2 separate regions of the Homo sapiens genome follow, and region 2 is linked to region 1. The links come from fine-mapping of genetic effects on gene expression. A gene starts in region 1. The other region holds a variant in brackets. All regions are shown on one strand. Distances are between the middles of the regions. Region 1 holds the start of MRFAP1L2 (Morf4 family associated protein 1 like 2). Region 2 holds the start of S100P (S100 calcium binding protein P).

Region 1 (5,000 bases):
AGAAACTCATTTTGAAAAATGTTTATTTACCTTACCTTTTCTTGGCCAAGTCAATTGCTTTGGTCATCTGCACAAAGATTCTAAACACTGGCTTTCAGCATTTCTTTTTCCAAGCAAATGAAATTTATCATAACAAGACAGAGCTCTGATTTTAGTCTCTGTGGAGTCTGGGCTCTGATGACCTAGGCTAGTCATCATCTAAGCCTGGAATGACTGTTTGGGACCCCCATGGCCAGCTTGAAGCTTTCCTTCCTCAGCCACTCTGGGCCCCTGAAGAGGTCACATGCATCTGTGGCAGAGACTGTATTATAACAAAGTTGTTTACCCCAAAGTCAGCAAACACATGTACCTAGAACTCATCCCAATTGTAGGTTGCTCACCAGACAGGTTACACGATGTGCACCAGTTAACATGCCATAGGAAAATTACATTCCAAGAAAAAGCAAAATGCTATAAAAACAAAAAAAACAAAACACCCAAAACAGCTCTCCCTCCTTTGATCTGATGGTCTGCAGAGGTCCTCAAATCCACACACTGCCACTCTTCAAGACCAACCGTCCACTGGGCCTTCTTAATCTCATCCAAAGTCGCATTCACAACTTTGACAGGAGCTTGGGTTCTTCATGTGGCAGCTGCAACCATGTAGTGTCTTCTCACTTGCAGAACTCTAACCTCAAGTCTCTCATGAGTCCCCAAATTCCAGGAAGCATAAAAAAACAGCAAAGCACACGAGTATACTTCCAAACTTTGAAAATACAATAAGATCACAGGAACAAATATGACCACGCAGCAGCGTACGTACTGTATAGGCCATATTCCTTTACGTGGGACATTAATGAAAAGCTGTCTTTTCCAAACTGAATGCGCCTATTAATAAAAAAATACACCTGACCATCTAATGCTGAAGTCATCCGCCAGGATGGTACTGGAAATTGAGTGGCTAATGTGGAGAAAACGCAGGCAGAAAAACAGGGGAGACAAAACGAAAGGCTCTCTTGGTTTGAGCCTGTCCAAGCAGCCACGACTCCTTATCAGGTGAACACAGTTCGTCAGTTGGCCACCTAAAGTACAAGTGGGAGAAATTCATCATCACAACATAAATTTTGAGCTTGATATTCTCATATCCGGGAGTCAAACAAACCCAACCACCTGTGCACAATGCTTCCACCTGCAGGAAGGTCATCGCAAACGCTCCAATCTCGTAACAACATTCACACGTTTCCAGCATGTACCTCCGCTTCACACCTCTCTCCCCCCACGTAGTGACCCACCAGGTCTACGTCCTGAAAATACTTCCAGTGGTCATGACTCTTTACAACAACATATCAAATTATTTTCTCTAATTACCTATGAAAAAAGAATGAAACCAACTCCGCGGAGAGCGTGGCACGGCTCTGCGCTCCCCTCCCTGCCTACCCAGCGCCTTCCACGCGGGACACTCCCCGCCGCGCTCCGCTCCAGACCCGCGCGGCCTCGCCGGCTCAGCAGCACTCGCAGCCGGCGATCCGCTGGTGCAGCTCCACGATCCGCCTGCCCATCCGCGCCGCCTCCGCAGCCTTCCTCTCTGCTTCGGCGCACAGCCGAGCCACCCGCTCCTCAGCCTCCGCACGCGGGCGGGGTGCTGGGGCCCGGGCGCCCCGCTCCTCTGCCTCCACCTCACTCTTGATGGCGTCGAGCAGGCTCTGGATCTCCAGCAGCTTCCTGCGGGCCCGCCAGTGCGCCCGGGCGCGCTCGCGCTCCAGGGAGGCCAGGTTCTCGCGGCCGGCGCGGGGCGCGGGGCTCAGCGGGCTGCCCGGCTCCTCGCGGGGCTCCCGCGCCTCGTCCGCGTCCACGGGCCGCATCACGCCGCCGCCTCTTCCAGCCCGCGGGGCACGCCGGGGCTGCTCACCAGCAGCGAGCGCGGAAGCCTCGCTGTCACCAACGACCAGACTAGCAACAGGTTGCCCCAACTTTCCGCAGCGAGGACGGTATCCAAAATGGGCTACTAGCCGTCGGCCAGGACGCTGCCACTGCGGCCCTTTTACGACACCTGCGGTCCTTTACCGCCACGCAGCAAGCGAGAACCGCATTCGGGGCTCCCGCCTCAGCGGTCCTGCGCGCGCACGCGCACTTGCACGCACGCGTACCCCCCCGCACGCATGCGCACCCCATGTCCCCGCCCGCTGTAGCGCCACAGCTCTTTGGGCGTTGATTCTAGGGTCAGGGCCCTCACTCACACTGCTGGAAGGTTAAAGTCGACTTCACGCTAGTTTAAGGAAATATCTGACGCTGATAACCATGTCCCAAGCACTGCTCTAAGTTCCCAATGTGTCCGGAATTGGTGGGTTCTTGGTCTCACTGACTTCAAGAATGAAGCCACGGACCCTCGCGGTGAGTGTTACAGCTCTTAAAGTGGCGCGTCTGGAGTTTGTTCCTTCTGATGTTCGGATGTGTTCGGAGTTTTTTCCTTCTGGTGGGTTCGTGGTCTCGCCGGCTCAGGAGTGAAACTGCAGACCTGTTACGGCTCATAAAGGCAGTGTGGACCCAAAGAGTGAGCAGCAGCAGGATTTATTGCAAAGAGAGAAAGAACAAAGCTTCCACAATAGAAGGGGACCTGAGCCGGTTGCCACTGCTGGCTCCGGCAGCCTGCTTTTATTGTCTTATCTGGCCCCACCCACATCCTGCTGATTGGTAGAGCCGAGTGGTCTGTTTTGACAGGGTGCTGATTGGTGCGTTTACAATCCCTGAGCTAGACACAAAGGTTCTCCAAGGCCCCAGCAGAGTCGATTGGTATATTCACAAACCCTGAGCTAGACACACGGTGCTGATTGGTGTATTTACAATCCCTGAGCTAGACATAAAGGTTCTCCACATCCCCACCAGACTCAGGAGCCCAGCTGGCTTCACCAAGTGGATCCCACACCAGGGCTGCAGGTGGAGCTGCCTGCGAGAACGGCACCGTGCGCCCACACTCCTCAGCCCTTGGGTGGTGATGGGACTGGGCGCCGTGGAGCAGGGGGTGGTGCTCGTCGAGGAGGCTCGGGCAGCACAGGAGCCCATGGAGGGGGTGGGAGGCTCAGGCATGGCGGGCTGCAGGTCCCGAGCCCTGCCCCTCGGAAAGGCAGCTAAGGCCCGGTGAGAAATCGAGCACAGCGCCGGTGGGCTGGCACTGCTGAGGGACCCAGTACACCCTCCGCAGCCGCTGGCCCGGGTGCTAAGCCCCTCATTGCCGGGGGCTGGCAGGGCCAGCCGGCTGCTCCGAGTGCGGGGCCCACCAAGCCCACGCCCACCCTGAACTCCAGCTGGCCCGCAAGCGCCGTGTGCAGCCCCGGTGCCCGCTCGCGCCTCTCCCTCCACACCTCCCTGCAAGCTGAGAGAGCCGGCTCTGGCCTTGGCCAGCCCAGAAAGGGGCCTCCACAGTGCAGCAGTGGGCTGAAGGGCTCCTCAAGTGCTGCCAAAGTGGGAGCCCAGGCAGAGGAGGCACCGAGAGTGAGCGAGGGCTGTGAGGACTGCCAGCACACTGTCACCTCTCACCAACATTCTAAATCATAAACACCCAGGCCGGGCGTGTGGCTCACGCCTATAATCCCAGCACTTTGGGAGGCTGAGGTGAGAGGATCGCTTGAGCTCAGGAGTTCCATACCAGCCTGGGCAACAAGGGAAAAAACCCTACCAAAAAAAACACAAGAAATTAGCTGGGCGTGGTGGCGCGTGCCGATAGTCCCAGCTACTTGAGAGGCTGAGCCGGGAAGATTGCTTGAGCCCAGCAGGTCGAGACCGAGGTGAGCTCTGAACGCCTGATTGCGCCACTGCACCCCAGCCCAGTGACAGGGCGAGACCCTGTCTCAAAATAAATAAATAAAAATAATAAACAACCGAATTCAGTGGTCCCGTTAGAATATTCCAGGCTCCGAGAAGCCAGGTGCTCACAGCGTCGGGATTTGCCCCCAGCCAGGGCCTCCGCTCCCTCTTGCCTCGGGCAGATGCTCCTGGAACACAGAGCTGCGGCCTCGGTGCTGATGCTGAGTGCTGTGACCCAGCCTCCCCCTACTTTTTTCCTAAGGGTATAAGCTTCACTCTGCCTGGGGCTTTGGCTGTAAGTTGGAGTCTGGCTTTACCCACTGTGGGCACCCAAGGCCAAGGTGGGTCTGATTCACCACTGTTTCCTCAGCCCTGCCAGGCTCTGAATATGCCTTTAGGAATCATTCTGGAAGATTTCTTTCTTCACTGGACTATATAAGTGCCTCTGCGAGAAAACAGGCCCTAGGGGCAGGTACTTAGTCAGTTTAGTCATCTGTTTCCTCAGCTTGAAATGGGCTTGGCATACAGCAGGAGCCCAGTAAATGTTGCTTTAATGCTCATTTCCCAAGAGATCTTTATTAAGCACCCACTGCATGTCATTGTGTCTAGGCTTATTCACTGTGTACCTCTAGCAGAAAGTTAAGGGGACCCTCCATGCTTGATGGCCAGAGGTCACTCTCAGCTCCTACAGGTCACTCTCCGGTCCTTAAACGTGGCCCTCTCCATCTTCAAAGCCAGTAAGAGCATGTCGGATCCTTCTTATCCTTCCAGCCTCTCTGTCATCCCCTTCTGCTCCCAGCTGGAGAAAACTCTGCTTTTAAGGGGCTTGCCATGGTCCAAATATGTGAGTCCCCCCAAAATTCATATGTTGCAAAGCAATCCCCAATGTGATGATATTAGGAGGTGGGGTCTTTGGGAGGTGATGTGGTCATGAAGGCTCAGCTTTCATGAATGAGATTAGCACCCTCATAAAACAACTCCACAGGGCCGCCTTACCCCTTCTGCTGTGGGAGGTTATAGCAAAAAGATGGGCTTCTATGAACCAGAAGTGGGCCCTCACCAGGCACCAAACCTGCTGGCACCGTGATCTTGTACTGCTCAGCCTTCAGAACTCAGAAAATACATTTCTGTTGTTTAGAAGACACCCAGTTTCTGGTATTTTGTTAGAGCAGCGTGAACGGACTAAAATAGTGCTTATGTGGTTGTGTAACAGCATCGAT
Region 2 (5,516 bases), 22 kb before region 1:
AATATTTGCAATCTGCAGTCCCTTCCCCAAAGAGGGATCCACCCAAGCCTCGTATTGTTGTGTCCACCTCCAAGTTCAGGATCTTTTGGTGATAGATCTTCTCTAGTGAAAATGTCTTCAAACATAGCAAGAGGCTTTAAATACTGGGTATCCAAAAAATGATAGGGGTCCTAAAACCAGATCCAGTTACCTACCTATCATCCAAGACCTCGCTTGAGTCCTTTTGGGTGCTCCCAACATTAGTGTCGTAAAACTAAATACAGGTGATGTGAGCAGTTGTTCACTGATGATTCTAATGCTCTCTTGGAATTCATTGTTTCTCTGTTATGGTGTTTCATAGTCTTTGTGGCAAAAATAGCATTGCATCATTAAAAGTATGTTACTGTCTGGGCGTGGTGGCTGAAGCCTGTAATCCCAGCACTTTGGGAGGCCGAGGTGGGTGGATCACGAGCTCAGGAGATCGAGACCATCCTGGCTAACACGGTGAAACCCTGTCTCTACTAAAAATACAAAAAATTAGCCGGGCGTGGTGGTGGGCACCTGTAGTCCCAGCTACTCAGGAGGTTGAGGCAGGAGAATGGCGTGAACCTGGGAGGCGGAGCTGGCAGTGAGCCAAGATCGCACCATTGCACTCCAGCCTGGGCAACACAGTGAGACTCCGTCTCAAAAAAAAAAAAAAAGAAAAAAAGATATGTTACTTTGCGAGGCGCAGTGGCTCACACCTGTAATCCCAGCACTTTGGGAGGTTGAGGTGGGCAGATCACCTGAAATCAGGAGTTCGAGACCAGCCTGGCCAACATGGTGACACCCCGTCTCTACTAAAAATACAAAAAGTAGCCAGGTGTGGTTTTGCGGGTGCCTGCAGTCCCAGGTACTCGGGAGGCTGAGGCAGGAGAATCACTTGAACCCAAGAGGCGGAGGTTGCAGTGAGCTGAGATGGCGCCATTGCATTCCAGCCTGGGTGACAAGAGCGAGACTCCGTCTCAAAAATAAATAAATATTAGAAGTATGTTACTTGAAGAAAACATGCTGTTTGGAGAGATGGAGGGGCCCAGGTTCAATGAGTGGCTACGTGACCGACTAAATGAATTACGAAGTAGATGAATAAATACATGGATGTGTGTACCCGAGCCTCCCTTGGGTCCAGGACATGGTGGCATTCACACGGCCAAAGGTGGGACTGTGTCTCAGTGGGCACTCAGAAGATGGCCAACAAATGGATTTTTATCGACTGCCTTGTCTTCTTCATCTGTCTCACCACTGCAGGCAGGCAATGAGTAATGAAATGACAAGTTTAATTAGTGAATTCTGTTTTGTGGGGAGAGGACACTGAGGTTTTAAGGAAATAACCAGTTTCTCTGAGACCAGGATCATTTCATAAGCATTTATTAATCAGAGGTACATGAGCAGGCTCAGCCTAGGGGAATAATTGCCAACAAACACTTTTGGGAAGCCTGGGACCATGGCTCTGCCAGGAATCTGTGACATCTCCAGGGCATCATTTGAGTCCTGCCTTCTCAAAGTACTTGTGACAGGCAGACGTGATTGCAGCCACGAACACTATGAACTCACTGAAGTCCACCTGGGCATCTCCATTGGCGTCCAGGTCCTTGAGCAATTTATCCACGGCATCCTTGTCTTTTCCACTCTAGAGGAGAGAGAGGCTCAAGGTCAGCAGTGAGGGTGCCTGTGCAGGGCCTCAGCCTCCACCAAGCACTGCTGCTGGGCAGGAGCAGGGCACCCACATCTGCGTCACCTTTGCTGTCAGGGCCAGGGCCAGCTGTGCATAGCAGACACATGGCATTCCTGGCCTTAAGAACTTGTGAGCTGCCTTCAGCTATCTGGCATGACATGAACTAACTTGTAATGTTTTTAGAGCGAATTGGAATTGTGCTCTGCGAGAGGGAGTTTCATTTTGAGTTTTTGCCGGGGGTTGTCTTTGGATTTGTAAAGTGCTTTACAGTGATGGTTGTTCTCAGGAAATGCATCCAGTCTTTGCTCTATTTTTTGTGCACTGCTAACTTCATGGGCCTCCCATCTCGTGCTGGCACTGAACTAGCTGCTTACACAAACAGGAACTCCTCAACACCACCAGACACGGCAGAGGCATCGCCCTGTTACAGATGAAGATGATAAGGCCCAGAGGGCCCAAGGGACCTGCCCTGAAGTCACACAGGGAGCCGGGGAAAGCCAGGGTTGAGCCCCAGGTGTGGAGCGAGCATGGAGCAAGCACCCTGAGCCCTGTTCTTCCTCTCTGCTTGGGTCCCAAGCTCTCAGGTCTTCTTTGAGAAGGCCAGGCCGGCAGGGCTCTCAGAGCCTGCCCATGTGATAGCAAAGCGTTCTCACTGTGGGACCAAGCGGGACCAGGATGCAGATCTGAACAGCAGCAGCAGGGTGTGCTGATGACCCAGCCCTGGGCCAGAGAGCTGTGTGTCCAGGTGGAAAGAAACACAATTAAAATTGGTAGAAACATATCATCTGACCAAGACACAACTGTGTGCATGAAGACCTTAGTGACAGCATGGTTTGCAATAGCAAAAGTAAGGCAGGGAAGTACAAATTCAATAGCAAACAAATAGTGGTATGGCCATGTC[A/G]CAATACCCTGCGGCCATTTCAAGTGATGTTTACAAAGTTTGTAGGCAGACAGTCACCTCGTATTTACAAAGCTCCGACTGTGCGGGGCGCTGGGTTGGGCACGGAGCAGATAGGGCCAGAAGGCCAGCCCAGCCCAGCCCTGCCCTCAGGCGGACATTGTTCTCTGACTCCGGCTTTGCTGGGCTTCAGCAGCCTCCGGAGGGAGGGCTGAGAAGGGCACCCAGGGCCTCCCCGAGGTGATTCTAATGTAACACATTAGCTGGACCCCCAGCTTTGCCATTGCTTCTCAAAGTGTGTTCCCAGGACACCTGTGCCTGCCCCTCCCCACACCCCAGTATCTTGGATCAAAGTCCTCATGGGTTCAATTCTCATACTTTGATCATTATCAGAACACCCCGAGCCCCAAGCCCAAGTTCCCAGGATGGGGCTGGGGTGTTTAATGAACATCAGAGTTTGAGAATTTATGTTGTAATGTTAAGCTCAAAAAGAAATTACATTGCATGTAAATCTCACTCACAGCAATGTTCATATGGGGAAAAGGCTGGAAGGGAGAGGAAGCGTCTGTATTCCAGGGGGGATTTCTTCCCTCCATATTTATCTATTTTTACATTTTCTACCAAAAACAGAACTTTATTTTTAAAAGATATCTTTACAGAATTCACATTTAGAAAATAGAACTAGGCCAGGTGTCGGGGCTCACGCCTGTAATCACAGCACTTTGAGATGTCGAGGCTGACGCATTGCCTGAGCACAGGAGTTTGAGACCAGCCTGGGCAACATGGTGAGACCTTGTCTCTAAAAAAAATACAAAAATTAACCGGGTATGGTGACATGCACCTGTAGTCCCAGCTACTCGGTAGGCTGAGGTGGGAGGATCACCTGAGCCCAGGGAGGTCGAGGCTGCAGTGAGCCGTGATCCTGCCACTGCACTCCAGCCTGGGTGACAGAGTGACATCTTGTCTCAAAAAAAAAAAAAAAGAAAAGAAAAGAAAATAGAAGCAATATTCTGAAGTGTTTCATGTCTTTGAAGTGATTCTAGGGCTGAAAATTTCAGGCTTTCATTTTTGATTATCAGCATCTATGTGGGTTAGCCCCTTAGCAGGTAGGCAGAGTCTGGTGGGGCCCGAAGGGGAGGGGAAGGAAGGAAGAAAGTGGGGGAGTGAGAAAGAAGGAGAGGACAGGGGTCAAAGGGAAGGGGAAATGGAGAGGGTACGGCTTCTGTTCAGCCCAGCCGGAGGCTGCCCCGGGCGGAAGGAAGCTGGTCCTGGCCGCCCTGAGGGGCCTTCTGTGAGGCTCAGGCCGGTGGCTCCTCCCTGGCAGGGAGCCCAAGGGAGGTCCACAGCTCTGCGCAGACAGGTGCCAGGATGGAGCCTCCTCCCGTCCTTCCTGCCAGACCCACTAATACCAGGCAACAAGGGGCCTGGGAATGGGAGCAGGGAAAGCGGGCAAGTGGGAGGCAGAGCTGGGGCGTTTATGGCCGGCAGCCTTGGAGGACAGCCCCGAGGGCTCAAGGGCTTGGCAAGCTTGGCAAACTTGCAAATGGCAGCCCTGGATTGCATTCCGCCCCTGCCCCCACTGCACAGGTTTGAGTCCCACTCTCCCACCAGGCCTGTCACAAATACACTGGGGTCAACCCCATGTTTCAAGGATCAAGCTGACCACACCCTCTCCCTGCTCAGATGCTCCCGCCTCCCCTGCCTTTATGCCAGGGTGGGTCCGTTCCTTGGCTGGGCTTCCAGGGCATTTCAGGATCTGTCCCTCTTGCCTCTGAGCCCCTTGACCGCCGACCCCACCGCAGCTCTCAGCCCTCTGCCTGCCACGCCTTCCCCTTCTTCCCCAGCCCCCGCTGAGTCCAGCACTGCCGGCCTGGCTCACCTGCAGGAAGCCTGGTAGCTCCTTCTCCATCAGCACCTTGAGCTCCCCCTTGGTCAGGGTCTGCGTGCTGCCCTCGCTGCCCGAATATCGGGAAAAGACGTCTATGATCATGCCCATGGCTGTCTCTAGTTCCGTCATGGTGCTAGATTCAGACCCACCTTCCTCCTGGGGGCTGGCAGGGCCGAGAAAATGTCCCACTGGCAGCCTCTTGGTGCTTTATAAGGCAGCCTCATATTGACACAGAGGGTGGGACAGTGGGGTTGGGACATTCAGGAAGTCCTGCCCCTCCCCATTCATGTGCTCAGTTCTGATGAAATGCATCGTTGTGATGACGTTTCTGGAACCTTTCCCCCAGCCAAGGCCCAGGGTGTGGGCTGCCTCCAGGCATCCACATTTTACAGTGTTCACCTGTGTCTCGGCGCCATCACTGAGCCACAGTGGCATCCTCATTCCTGGCCCTCCCTGGGTAAGTGGGCACGGGGTGAGTGTGTGTGGAGTGAGTGGTGACTCCGTGGCCCTTTGTGTCAATATCAGAGCGTGCTGGCACCCAGCGTGCTGACACGAGGAGACATCTGAGAGTGAATTCACATGGGCGTGTTTGTGAACATGGATCTGCCCCATCGTCCCTTTCTTAGAGCACTCTGTGTCCTTCAGAGGCCCAGCTTCCACGTCAATCTCGCTCGCTCCTCCCCTGTGGGGCCAAACAGAAAACTCCCCTTCATCCTCTGGGAGTTTGCTGAAAATCAACGGGCAGAAGGCAGATGAATAGGAGAAGAGCATAACAGATGTATTTGATCATAGCTTATGTGGCACGGCAGCCTTCAAGATGAAGATCCAAAGATCTGGTGGAAACTATCCATAAACACAGTTCAGCGAAGTATGGAAATATGATTGGATACAAAAGTAAGGCTGGATGCTCACAGACCAAGAGGAGAGCCTGGTAGGGCCTGTTGAGTCAGATTCCCTGGGGCCTCTCTGAGCAGCTCTCCTTCCTTCTAGGTGTGGGGCAGGACTCTTTCTGGAATGGAGCTCTTATGACCTACAGT

The links. PIP is the estimated chance that this variant, and not a neighbour inherited with it, causes the effect.
Region 2: its variant is fine-mapped to the expression of MRFAP1L2 in spleen (GTEx, PIP 0.94).

The regions. Positions count from the first base shown.
Region 1 is chr4:6,671,054-6,676,053 of GRCh38, reverse strand. It overlaps MRFAP1L2 (Morf4 family associated protein 1 like 2), which reads right to left and starts at 1,979. Exons shown (of 1, transcript NM_138699.3): 1 at 7-1,979. The coding sequence starts at 1,841. The coding sequence ends at 1,482. LINC02482 (long intergenic non-protein coding RNA 2482) reads left to right here and starts at 2,173. Exons shown (of 2, transcript NR_134665.1): 1 at 2,173-2,370. RefSeq lists a silencer at 1,675-1,904 and an enhancer at 2,377-2,985.
Region 2 is chr4:6,693,025-6,698,540 of GRCh38, reverse strand. It overlaps S100P (S100 calcium binding protein P), which reads right to left and starts at 4,663. Exons shown (of 2, transcript NM_005980.3): 1 at 4,471-4,663; 2 at 1,371-1,648. The coding sequence starts at 4,608. The coding sequence ends at 1,499. RefSeq lists enhancers at 1,695-2,457, 3,660-4,395, 4,396-5,132, 5,442-5,516. The variant A/G (reference allele first, on the strand shown) is at 2,595.